Linked DNA regions of Homo sapiens: all the other regions are linked to region 2. The links come from fine-mapping of genetic effects on gene expression. A gene starts in region 2. Each other region holds a variant in brackets. All regions are shown on one strand. Distances are from middle to middle. Region 1 overlaps AFF3 (ALF transcription elongation factor 3). Region 2 holds the start of AFF3 (ALF transcription elongation factor 3). Region 3 overlaps LYG2 (lysozyme g2).

Region 1 (4,000 bases), 580 kb after region 2:
TCAGAAAAATAAATGGAATTAAGTGCAGTCCATAAAAGCCACTAGTTTCTCGTAGTATCTGTCTGTAGAAGCAAACAGAGATTAAAAATGTACTCAGGACACTTATGTAGCTGTCAAAGTAAAAGTTACATAACAAAGAAAGAGGGGTAAATCTAAGCATTCCTCTGCATACCCAGGATGGAAATTCTTCTGGAGGTAAGCACAGAAGGATAGAACTTCACCTCCATCTGTCAGACACTCAGCCATAAATCAAAATGTGGAAAAATGGACATGTTAGCATATACATGAATAGTTCTTGAACTGGTATCACTCCCGACAATCTGTAGCATTTGAACTTGTACTGTTAAAGAGCAGAAAGTAGCTGTTCTAGTCATCACAGTAATGTAATACTTGGGAAAATGGAGCAGCACCAGCTAGCTTTTAAGAAAGAATTATCAGCAAGTACTATGAAAAGCTAAGGATCAGGCAGGGAGAACTACCATCATAGAAGTTCTGTTAATAAAAAAGCTAGTTTTACTATTTCTTTGCTTTTTATGTTTTTTATTCTATTCCTCCTCCCCGCTTTTTCTAAGGTATGCTATGAGACTAAAAACCCACTCAGGCCCCAATGCCACACCAGAAGACAAACAACTGGCTGCATTATGGTGAGTGCCCATCTCCGCTTAGAATAGCAGCCCCAGCCTCGCATGCCATCATTGGCAAACCAGGTGCTGAAAGGCATAGTGTTTGCCCAATGTCTTCTAACATACAAAGCCCCAGAGCAGTTCTAATGACCAGGGAAAGTCCAGACCATTTTTTGCTGCCGTACTATACATGATCTGAATTCACAGTGATTGAAAATCGACAGGCCTACCAAAGTGCTGGGATTACAGGCATGAGCCACTGTGCCCGGCCTAATTTTTGTATTTTTAGTAGAGATGGGGTTTCACCATGTTGGTCAGGCTGGTCTTGAACTCCTGACCTCAAGTGATCTGCCTGCCTCAGCCTCCCAGAGTGCTGGGATTACAGGCGTGAGCCATCGCACCCGGCGCAGCCGCTTACTTTGAAAATGATGCCACAGAAAAAAGGGAACGATCGGGTAACCTATAGTTCCTTTACCTGTCAGCCCTTTCTTACTCATCAGTAGGTGGAAGGCAGAGAATGTTGATAGAATACATGTCTACCAAGCAGTGAAATAAAGACAGTTGAATTAAAAAATAATAATAACAGCAACAGACACAAAAAAGGTCTCAAATTGTTACCTGTCCTGGATTTGGTTGGTAGGAGGAGATGGTGCCATTGCACCCAGAATGTTGGTATTCTGGATGTCAGCATCAGATCCGAGTTAGCAAATAACTGAGTGAAGAGCTCCAAGGAAGAGAGGATAAGTCTCAGAAACGCCTTTTGTGCCCCTTTCAAACTTTAAGTCCCATATTGGAATAATACACTAAATGACAATAATATGATTATATAAGATAGAATACTGATATATAAATAAGTATACAAAATATTATAGGAAATAATAAAATGATGGCACCTATTCCCAGCATAGTGTTTTTGTTGTTTATAATGATGGCACCTATTCCCAGCATAGTGTTTTTGTTGTTTATAAAGTACATTCATGTTTGTGACTTTAGTGGAGCTGCTTATAGTTCAGTAACATCA[G/C]GTGGCAGCGTCGTCCTTTCCGCAGAGCGGGGCTCGCCCGCGAAGCAGTGAAGGCTGCGTACTAGAGCTACCTCGCGCCTCTCGTGGAGAGACAGCGCCCTCTCGTGGTGGAAGAAGGAAGCGGCCGGCCCCTGTGACCCAACAGAGTGATTCACCTAATGCTGTAAAATTATCTAGTGATAAATGTATTTATGGAATACCTTCTTGGAATTTTGAATTCTATTTTTGGACAAAAGATGTTCCCTCACAGACATTATATGCACGTATAGAAAGATTTCCTATGTAGAAACAAGGTATTGTTATTGAGTACCTTAGAACAACAACAAAAATGTTTAAGTCTTGTTTGCGCACGACGCACTCAGCCGCTTCTGGGCCTGTTTCTCTTTTCGCCTGCAGTTACCGATGCCTGGCCCTCCTGTACTGGCGGATGTTTCGACTCAAAAGGGACCACGCTGTAAAGTATTCAAAAGCACTAATCGACTATTTCAAGGTACTGTCTAGTGAATGAGCAGAATTGTTCCTTAATTTCACTTGTCTCCCTGTCAAATTTGTGAAGCACCTGGTAGACTCCATTGCTTTGGGGTTAATGCAGGTCACCTCTGGTCCCCAAGGTAACCCCATTTATGCCACACTTGTGGCTTTCAGGCCTCAGAATGGACCTTTGAGAGCCCATCTAATGTATCTCCCTGCCTTCTTGTCCAAGTATTTTTATTTTTTTATTTTTATTTTTTTATGTATTTTTGGAGACAGAGTTTCACTCTTTGTTGCCCAGGCTGCAGTGCAATGGTGCGATCTCGGCTCACTGCAACCTCCGCCTCCTGGGTTCAAGCAATTCTCCTGCCTCAGCCTCCCAAGTAGCTCAGATTACAGGCGCACACCACCACGCCTGGCTAATTTTGTATTTTTAGTAGAGATGGGGTTTCACCATGTTGGTCATGCTGGTCTCGAACTCCTGACCTCAGGTGATCTCCCCGCCTCCACCTCCCAGAGTGCTAGGAATACAGGTGTGAGCCACCACGCCCAGCCTTGTCCAGGTATTTTTATGGCTTCAAGAGAAAGAAGATCCAGTTACTCGTTCCACTGTCCTAGGAAATTCATCTTTATAGCTAACATAAATTCCTCATGCTCACTTAGAGCTTCTTTTCCTTAGAAGTAACCCCTTAGAGCCATTCCCTCTTAGCCAGTCTCTAGTAGCTTATTTAATTTTTAATGGCGTTATTTAAAATGGTAAGAGATGGCTTGTTAGAACTCAGAAGCAGTAGATAGCAGTGTGTAGCTATAGGGATAAAATTGCAAACCATGCCACCTTTTACTTATCTCAGGGAATGAAATTATTTTCACTGGGAGAATAAATTTTTAAAAGCCTTCGCTGATGTACTGTTGTGAGGTCGACCTTACATTAATAATTAATTTGAGATTTCTGGTCCTCTTCTCTGTTTATCTATAGAAACTAGAAATTATGCCGTCTCTATCTCCAACAGCCCTTTGTCAGATACACAACCATCATTTGAGATCTGTTCATGCCCAACCTCCTCTAGAGGTGATCTCTAATGGCCAGGCTGTGCTGGGGGTTCCTGGGGTATGTTCAGCACACTGCCTTCCAATTGTGCATGTAGAGTAACCAGGTGCTAGGCCATGGACATCACTTTCTCAGCCCATTGACCGTCCTGTGTCTTCAGGACAAGAACCAGCACTGAGCCTTCCCTTTCCTTCAGGTGCCTAAAGTCAACATCAATAGTGTTCAAAAATCCAGAACGTAAGATCTACTACTAAAGAGAATTATTACAGTCAAGGAAAATGCTTGAATAAAGAAGGAAGCTGAATTCTGTAAGCCGCCAGGGGCTACAACAAACTTTTAAGGGATACAAGTTCTTAATATTCTCTGCAGCCCACTAATACATACAGAATGGGTAGAAAACACGCCAGGCGTGGTGGCAGGCATCTGTAATCCTAGCTACTAGGGAGGCTGAGGCACGAGAATCGTTTGAACCCGGGAGGCAGAGGTTGCAGTGAGCAGAGATGGCGCCACTGCACTCCAGCCTGGGCGACAGAGTGAGACTTTGTCTCAAAAAAAAAAAAAAAAAAGGAAAACACAACCAGAAAATCAGAGTTGCTCCTCAAGGAATTAATGTCATTTACCCTTCATCAAAAGCTATTTTTAAAATTTTTTTAATTAATCAACAACAAATTGCGTGTACTTATGTATAATGTGATGTTTTGATATATTTATACATTGTGGAATGATTAAACCAAGCTAATTAACATATCCATCACCTCACATACTTACCGTTTTTGTGATGGGAACATTTAAAATCGATTCTTTTAGAGATTTTCAAGTATACTATATATCATTATT
Region 2 (4,359 bases):
TGCCCATAGTATCATCTAACATGAAGGCAATGGCTTCAGCCCGCACAGGTGAGGAATTCTGCTTTGAGATGAGCAGGATGGAAGGGTTTTTAATATCCATGGGGATCTGCCAGATAGCCAATGGAAGTGAAGGCACCCTGAAAGAGGAAATAGCATGTGCAAAGCTGTGACATAAAGCAGCCTGAAAGTTCAAGAAACCATGAGTGGTGGTGGGATTGTTGGGTGGTGAGGAAGGAAGTGGTATCAAGGATGGCAAGAGATGGTATTGGGGAGTGGGCAGAGGCCACTGAATCCAACATCTCGCCTGCCCAGCGATGGAGCCTTGGGATTTTCCTGTGGGTGACAGGGAGCCATTGAAGCGTTTAAGGACTGGTCGTGGGGTGAGGGGAGTGTACTGTCATCATTTTTGTAGTCTTTTGCAGAGAAAATTTGGAGGCAGTTTGGAAAACACTCTAGAGCCTGACATGTGAGAGATGAGTTAGGAGGTCACGTGTCCCCACTTTTCTAATTTTGTATCTTCTTCAGCAAAAAAGTCTTTGCCGCCTATTCTGAGCAGATGTATGATTATTCACAAATGATATACAATACAACTGTATTCACACATTGCATGCCTTGAAACATACACAAAATGTAAACACTAAAAACATGACGTAAAAATAGATGTAAGTCTGGGAACTCGATGGAGGTGGTGGCTGCACAGCATTGTGAGTGTACTCAATGCCACAGGATTCCCCATCTTAAAACGGCTCATTTTATGGTATGTGAGTCTTAATTAAATACAAAAACCAGACAAGTGTGGGTAGATAGACATTCAATTCCTTTCTTCTCATCCTTCAGTGAACGGTCTGGTGTGCCCTGGGTGCACGTACCCCTTGGGGATTAGGGCAGTGATGAGAGGCAATGGAGGGAGGGTGTGGCTGTGGAGATGCGGACGGGAAGAAGGATCTGAGGAGTGACTGAAGAGGTAGAATGGGCAGGGCTTGGTGATGGAAGGTTGAAGAGTATTCAGCAAAGAGAAGAACGTGGGAAGCCTCCCCATTTCTGGTTTGGGTATAAGATAAAGAAACGTTTTCTCCTTGCCAGGGACATGAGGCAGACAATACTGGGATAATTTCCCAGGGCTTGGGATAGGACTGGGTGGGGAAGTTTCTAGGTATCCATTCTCAGGATAAGGACGGGCCTGTTTGGATGAGGATAATGGAGGGTCAAACCTGAAGAAGCCAGATTAGCAGAGGCAAAGTGAGAGATCAGAAGGTGGTAAACTCAGAAGGGGGTAGAGACCTGAGGAGCAAGCTGGGACAAGGCAGGAGGGAATTCACAGGCCACATGGTAAGTAATGAGTGGGGTAGAGGACAGAGCAGGGTTTCATTGTGGCGAGTCTGACGGGAGGTGCTGGGGGATGTTCCAGGAGAACAGCAGAAATGTGTGATGCTATGGATGTGGGCTTGGCAAGTTCCATCTGGAGCTGGGAAGAGGCCACCCATGGAGAACAGGAACCATGAGGCGGAGAGTGGAGCTTGCAGGAGGGCGAAAATTAAGACCAAAGAATGGAAGCCTGCCAGTGTGAGAGACCGCCTGACAAAAACCAGGAGAGTATGGAGTCATGGCGGCCCAGGCAGAAGTTCTGGGAGGAAAGAAATGGTCAACACTACAGGGAAGTCAAACACTGCCAGTGGAGACAAATAGGACAGGAACTGAAAAAGCATCCATTAGTGAATCCCTGGTGTCATTAGTGAAAATAATTCCAGGCATGAATGGGGAGAGGGAAGGGTGTCGGGCAGGAAGTCCAGTGCCCGTGGGTTGACTGAATGGGAGATGAGGAGGTAACACCCATCATGTAGGTCATGTAGAGCAGCCTTAGGACATCTGATTCCTTGCCTAAGACTCTTCTTTCCTGGTGTAGCTTTGTTCTAGAAAGGTCTGGAAGACTTGTCACAGTTCCAATGCAGGATGAGCCTTTGGTCCTGATCTCTTGGAGGCCCAGACAGCCTGGGAAACCAGCAGAGCTTTGGACAAGTTAAGCAGCCCATTGAAATCAACATTCTTGATAATCATATATCTAAGAGATTCCAAAATGTTCCTGGGATTCTTTTATGGGTCTGCATAGGGTTAGAAAGCACAGGAGTCAAAGAGACCTTCTCCCTTGGCCTCCAGGGCCACCATCCTCTGCTTTTGTCAGTTGGTCTCCCCAGAGTAGAGTCCAGGTTCCTGCTTCCAGCCTTCTGGTAGACCAGGCCCTGCCACAAGTGAGAGTTGGCCGGTTGGGTATCTGGTTTAGTCACTCGCCTCCACACTTTCACATCCTCTATCAACACCTGCACACTTGGGTTGTGACCACACATGCTCTTCCTGTTTGTACAGAAAGTGCCATTCAGAAAGCTCGCCAGCGAGAAGAGAGCTCCACGCTCAGCCTCAGAAGAAAGACGTTCAACGACTTACTGGGGAGAGAAAGAAAAGGAACGGGAGCTGAGAGGTAAGATCAAACTGGAGGGTGTGCGGGCCCTCTAGGATGCCTTGCCTGGAAGAGAGGTAGCCCCGACTTTGTGTCCTGAAGGGTGGCGCTCTAAGTAGCTGTGCCCATGCTCCGCTGGTCAGGGCAGGGGGAGCATTCTTGGTCAGCCTCACCGAGATGGTCCAGGCCCTGGTGAACAGCCAGAGGGATTGAGAAGGAAGAGATGGGATGTGACCAAAGTTGGTCACTGAAGCCGTCAGTGTGTGTGCGTGTGCATGTGTGTGTGTGTGTGTGGTAGAGGGTGCACATAAAGAAGACATAACCTGAGTGTGAACATGCTCACACACATATTTATGATGCTGGCTGGGGCCTTATGAAAAGTGTGTCTTAACCTCATGTTGCTCATTAGCTATAACCTCAAAAATAGAAACCATGACATGGCCACAGACTGGATCCCAGTCAATGGCCCCAGTGAGTGAGCTTGCAAGGAGAGATCATGGGCAGTTCCACCTAAGGCCACCGTCACTTCTGCAGAAATGACTTGGAATAATGACCTCCTCACTGTTAGGGGCTAACAGCACTATATTTGTATTTCTTGGATGGAACATTGTATATGTGTGTATTTGTGTGTGTGTGTCTGTGTATGTGCATAAACACATCATGTATTTATACACATGACATTGTGTGTATGTGTGTTTATGTGTGTATATATATGTACACACACATATGATATAATGCAATATACACAGTGACCAGATTTTTGAAACCAAAGAGAACTAATAGCAAGACAAAGGGGTTTTTTTCCTAATATGTGATTTCCTTGCTATTCGAGTCTCACATATATAAAAATGAAATATGTCTACACATGTGTTTCATAATTCCTTTTATTCAAAGAGGGGATCATTCAGGTAGCTAAAGGTCAAGTGTTTACAATAACAAAGTGGTGGTAAACTCATTCTTTGAATGTTGATCGTACAAACTAAATAATCCATCAAAAAATGTTGTCTCTGCCATTATTAAAAGCATGTGTTCCTTGGTGCAAAATTTAAGAATGTTCTAACTACAAGAGCACCTTCCTTTACCTAGGGCTATCCCATCTCACTGTTGAAGTGAAGTGATTACAGTGAAAGTAATACAGACATTTAATATTCTTAGTTTTGGTTGTGTTTCTGTCAACTGCTATTCCCTTGTTCTAGGCGTAACTGCACTTAGTGTTTAGTGGTGTTATGCATATGTATATTTGATTTGCATTTAGAAAATAGAAAAATATATACATTGCTTATTTTCCAGATTTCAAGGTTTAAATTCCCACTCTAACATGATGGTTTTAGGCAAGTCACTATACATCTCTGCATCGGAGTTCCCACATCTGTAACACAAGTACAATAGTAGATAGTAATCCCTTCCTCTTAAGAATTAAATAAGCTAATACATGTAAAGTGCTTAGACAAGTGCCTGGAACATTGAAAGGGCTCAGTAAGTATTAGCAGCTGTTATCATTGTCATCATCATCATCATCATCATCACTACCTTTTGTACAATTAAGCCATCAAACTTGAAGGGACATGGTAAGAGTTTGGGAAAGGTGAAAGGTGGGAGGTGGTGTGTGTAAAATGGGTTTGGGGGGTGACACTTAAGGCCAGAGCAGTGACATTACAGTCCTTACACTGTAGCTACAGACAAGTAGTGAGCAGGAAAGAGGAACAGCACAGAACACCCCTCCCTATGAGGCCTGCTTGTGAGAGGAACATGTTCTGGAGCTCTGTGGGCTTGATGACATGTACTCATACACATCTTGTACAGCAAACCAGGAAATAGGCACATGGAACGGTGACATCCAAATGATAGTATATAACATGCATTCAGTGCCTCTCAGGTGTGAGACGTGGTGCTCGGCATTTTACACA
Region 3 (4,359 bases), 890 kb after region 2:
AGGCCGTCGCTTTGTAAAAGCTTGAAGTGCAGTTTGCTGCTGAGTACAGAAGACCTTTGCAAACAGAGAGGGGAGATTTTCTCTGTAAGGTTGCAAACAAGGTTAGTGCTGGCCTTCTTATGTCTTGTAAAACTTATAAGCTACCATTTGAATGAAACCAAGAATAGAGTTGATTGAGGAAGAAATGGAGCAGAGGAAACCTCTTCTAAGTCACGTTCTCATGCTCCTGTTGGTATTTTGTTTTATTTTGTTTTCCCTACGGAGACCCTGGTATAAGAATGGAAACACCCAGGCATGGTGGCACGCATATGTCGCCCCAGCTACTCAGGAGGCTGAGGTGGGAGGATCGCTTGAGCCCAGGAGTTTGAGGCCATAGTGAGCTATGATTATGCCACTGCACTCCAGCCTGGGTGACAGAGCAAGATCCCATTTCTAAATAAATGAATGAAAGACCAAAACTGATCCTTGAAGCCAGGGGTAGGGTGAATAACTAGAATGAAAAGATCAGTATTTTTTTTTTTAAAAAGAAAGGGAACAAAATTGTGGTGTTACCAAGCTTAGAGGTGGGATGGGAGTGTATATTTAGTTACATATGTAAGATACGCATGACTCATGTCAATATGAAATTGGATTGAAGTGAGATTAGGAGTTTATGCTTAAGAAAGAGAGTGTGCCAACAAACTATGTACTGAGCCTGTGAGAATACTATCTTGAAACAGGGAAATGAGTAGTGAATTGGAAATAACTCTAAACTTTTTAAAATATCAAAGCAAATTTTTCTTTAGGAAATTTTCAGGTTTTAAAATTAACCAGTTTCTATTTCAAATCAGAGCAGGTCCTGGAAGATAAGATTCCCCGCCATGTTATCCTCCGTGGTGTTTTGGGGACTAATTGCCCTCATTGGTAAGTCACTGGCTGAGATTTAGCATTGTTCACAGGGTGTCCACAAAAACCTCCAGCACAATCATGAATCAGAAAGAGCAATGATTACCTGTAATGGAAGAGTGGGCTCTCATTCTGACCAGCTTGGCCATTAATCAACTATTATTTCTATAATTAACAGTGTGTTCTGCTTGCTAAGCAGGTGAAAAACAGGATCTATGGGAATTTCAAATAATCTAATATTTATTGATCTGCTTACTTCCTGTCTGACAATGCACCTATCAGGCTGGATACCTTACCGAGAGGTATATGGAACAGTGCCTTGGAAGCAAAACACATGAAGAGACAATTATCAATGCCAAGCAGTGGATGAGAGTTCAATGTGTATAGGTGGGAAAAAAGCACTAGTCTGGGAAAGGTTTGGGAGGAAGAGCTCACATCCAACTAGAATGCTCAGATGTGAAAGGCTTTTGGGGGGGACATGTCAATTGAAGGATGCTTGGTGATTTAATAAGAAAAAGGAAGAGCCTGCTGGATGGGAAGAAAGATTTCAGTAAAAAAGCAGAGGCAGAAATGAATGAAAAGTCTTTGGGTCAGTGTGGTCTGGACAGACGAGGGGGTTTCTGGGGGGAAGGCTGGAAAGATAGGTTGGTAAGTTGGTAAGGGATCTTGAATAAGAGAATGTGAAAACTCTGACCTAAGCAAAATGAAAAGCCATTATGAGCAATGTTCAAGTTGTCTTTAATTATAGAATGGTGACTGAAAGGAAAGTGTTTCTAAAATGTTTAATTCTAAATTTGGAAAAACAAGGCTACCCGAAAGTAATTTCCAGTTACTTATGGTCAAAACAGGGCAACATAGTTTTAAATTTTTACTCTTTTTAGATTGCCAGGTGAGAGCAGAGTTAAATAGCCAGTAGATTAATTATGAGCTACCATATTAGCTGTGTATAGCTGAAAGGTGACTCTTAATTTAAAAAGGGCTTGTGTGTTTATAAGGCCTACACAGGCAGCGTAGGGTCCATGGTCATATTCCAGTTCCCTTAAAGCAGTGGTTCATAAACATGTGTAAGAGTCAACTGGGAATGCTGGGTAAAAGGCAGCTTCTTTCGCCTTATACTGCAAGATTTTGGTGCAGTAGATCTGGTGTGAAAAGCCCAGTGATAAGCCTTTTTTTTTTTTTTTTTTTTTGAGACAGAGTCTTGCTCTGTCGCCCAGGCTGGAGAGTGCAGTGGTGCGATCTCAGCTCACTGCAAGCTCTGCCTCCTGGGTTCATACCATTCTTCTGCCTCAGCCTCCCAAGTAGCTGGGACTACAGGCGCCCACCATCATGCCCAGCTAATTTTTTTGTATTTTTAGTAGAGACAGGGTTTCACTGTGTTACCCAGGATGGTCTTGATCTCCTGACCTCGTGATCCGTCCGCCTTGGCCTCCCAAAGTGCTGGGATTATAGGTGTGAGCCACCACGCCCGGCCCAGTGATAAG[C/G]ATTTTTAATAAGCTTCCTGGGTAACTTTGATGCCTGTGGTCTGTGGGCCACACAGTGAGCCTGGCAAAGACTGCCTCCCAGTGAAAGGATACTGAACCTGTCAATATAAGGACACTTGATCCAGATAATTTAAACAATCCCTTTCTGTCTCATTCCTTCATCCATCCAACTATCCATTCTTCCATTCAGCAAATGTTTATTAAATGTCTACTTTGTGCCAAGCATTGTTCCAGGTGCTGAGGAGGATATAGCAGAGAAAAACATCTAGTATCTGACCTAATGAAATTTATCTTCTAGTGAGAGGAACGAACAGTAAGAGAGTGAGAGGAAAAAGGGAAGAGAGAGGGAAAGAGTGAGAGGAAGGGAGGGAGATAAAAACATTTCACCTGTAAAAATTTTTGGGCTGGGCACGGTGGCTCACACCTGTAATCCCTGCACTTTGGGAGGCCGAGGCAGGCGGATCAAGAGGTCAGGAGATTGAGACCATCCTGGCTAACACAGTGATACACCATCTCTACTAAAAATACAAAAAATTAGCCAGGTGTGGTGGCAGGCACCTGTAGTCCCAGCTACTTGGGAGGCTGAGGCAGGAGAATGGCATGAACTTGGGAGGCGGAGCTTGCAGTGAGATAAAAACATTTCACCTGTAAAAATTTTTGGGCTGGGCACGGTGGCTCACACCTGTAATCCCTGCACTTTGGGAGGCCGAGGCAGGCGGATCAAGAGGTCAGGAGATTGAGACCATCCTGGCTAACACAGTGATACACCATCTCTACTAAAAATACAAAAAATTAGCCAGGTGTGGTGGCAGGCACCTGTAGTCCCAGCTACTTGGGAGGCTGAGGCAGGAGAATGGCCACTGCACTCCAGCCTGGGCGACAGAGTGAGACTCCATCTGGAAAAAAAAATTTTTTTTTTTAATGTGTCTCTAACATATAAGGACCAGCTCTGGCACAAAAAGATGTTCCTGGTTCATCTTGAACATTTCCTGCCCCAGGCAGGCAATCAGCCATTATTCTGAGGAGCGCTGGTTCCACTTAGCAGGAAATGGTATTTAGAGACCACAGTGTGGGAAGTAAAAGTGCTCCATTGCTATGGAGCTGTCGTTTATTTCAGGTGTTTTCAGTGGCAGGAACTAGAAAATATATATTTTTAAAAGGAAAACAACTATGCATTCAGATATTTCACATTTATATTTAAGAATGCAAGCATTTTACATCAGTTTTATATTTGTACCTCTGCTATCTTACACTAAAAATCCTAGTTCTAATGACATTAGCATTATTACTTATTTACATACAATAGTGTCAAAATAAGTATGACAGTATTACCAACCAACAATGAGACAGTAAATATAATTTAAGATTTTCTTGTGATTATTTATGTTCACAGGATGGATTCCTATGTAGTGGTATAGACTTATATGGATATATTTTAAAGTCACTTAAGATAATTCTCCTCTATGTGTTTATTAATCTTTCAATTTGTTATAGAGTTATGTTCATTTGTTCTTCTTTTTTATGATTCCATTTTTCCCCATTTGATTTAATTTTAAAATTTATGATAACATTTACATGGTTCCAAAATAAAAACTTTAAAAAAGATAGTTAGTCTATCCCCTATCCCTGTTCCCTTTACCTTCCTCTTACTCTCTCCATAACTAACAATTTTTATCAGTTTTTCATTCATCCTTGTATTGTTTCTTTTGAAAATATGAGCAAATCACACAAAATATACGATTGTATTTTCTTACCTTTCTTACACAAAGAGTACAATTCTATAAATACTATTTTGTCCCTGGAGAGAATTTTACAGGAGTATATACAGGTCTTATTCTTTCCTTTTGCAGCTGCATAGTGCTCCACTGTGGACGTAGCATCACTTACTCAACCAGTCCCTAAATTAATGACATTTGTGTTGTTTGCAGTCCTTTGCTCTTATCAACAGTGCTGGAATGAACAGCCTATCACAAAACTGTGTTCCACAGCAATG

Evidence for each region. PIP is the estimated chance that this variant, and not a neighbour inherited with it, causes the effect.
Region 1: its variant is fine-mapped to the expression of AFF3 in whole blood (TOPMed, PIP 0.95).
Region 3: its variant is fine-mapped to the expression of AFF3 in anterior cingulate cortex (GTEx, PIP 0.93).

Annotation. Positions count from the first base shown.
Region 1 is chr2:99,557,009-99,561,008 of GRCh38, reverse strand. AFF3 (ALF transcription elongation factor 3) reads left to right here. Exons shown (of 25, transcript NM_001386135.1): 21 at 573-644; 22 at 2,041-2,134. Among named protein-coding and RNA genes, the nearest start is that of REV1, 69 kb to the right of the region's middle. The variant G/C (reference allele first, on the strand shown) is at 1,645.
Region 2 is chr2:100,140,598-100,144,956 of GRCh38, reverse strand. AFF3 (ALF transcription elongation factor 3) reads left to right here and starts at 2,367. Exons shown (of 25, transcript NM_001386135.1): 1 at 2,367-2,473.
Region 3 is chr2:99,250,762-99,255,120 of GRCh38, reverse strand. It overlaps LYG2 (lysozyme g2), which reads left to right. Exons shown (of 7, transcript NM_175735.4): 2 at 1-101; 3 at 836-903. The coding sequence starts at 861. Among named protein-coding and RNA genes, the nearest start is that of LYG2, 2.7 kb to the left of the region's middle. The variant C/G (reference allele first, on the strand shown) is at 2,367.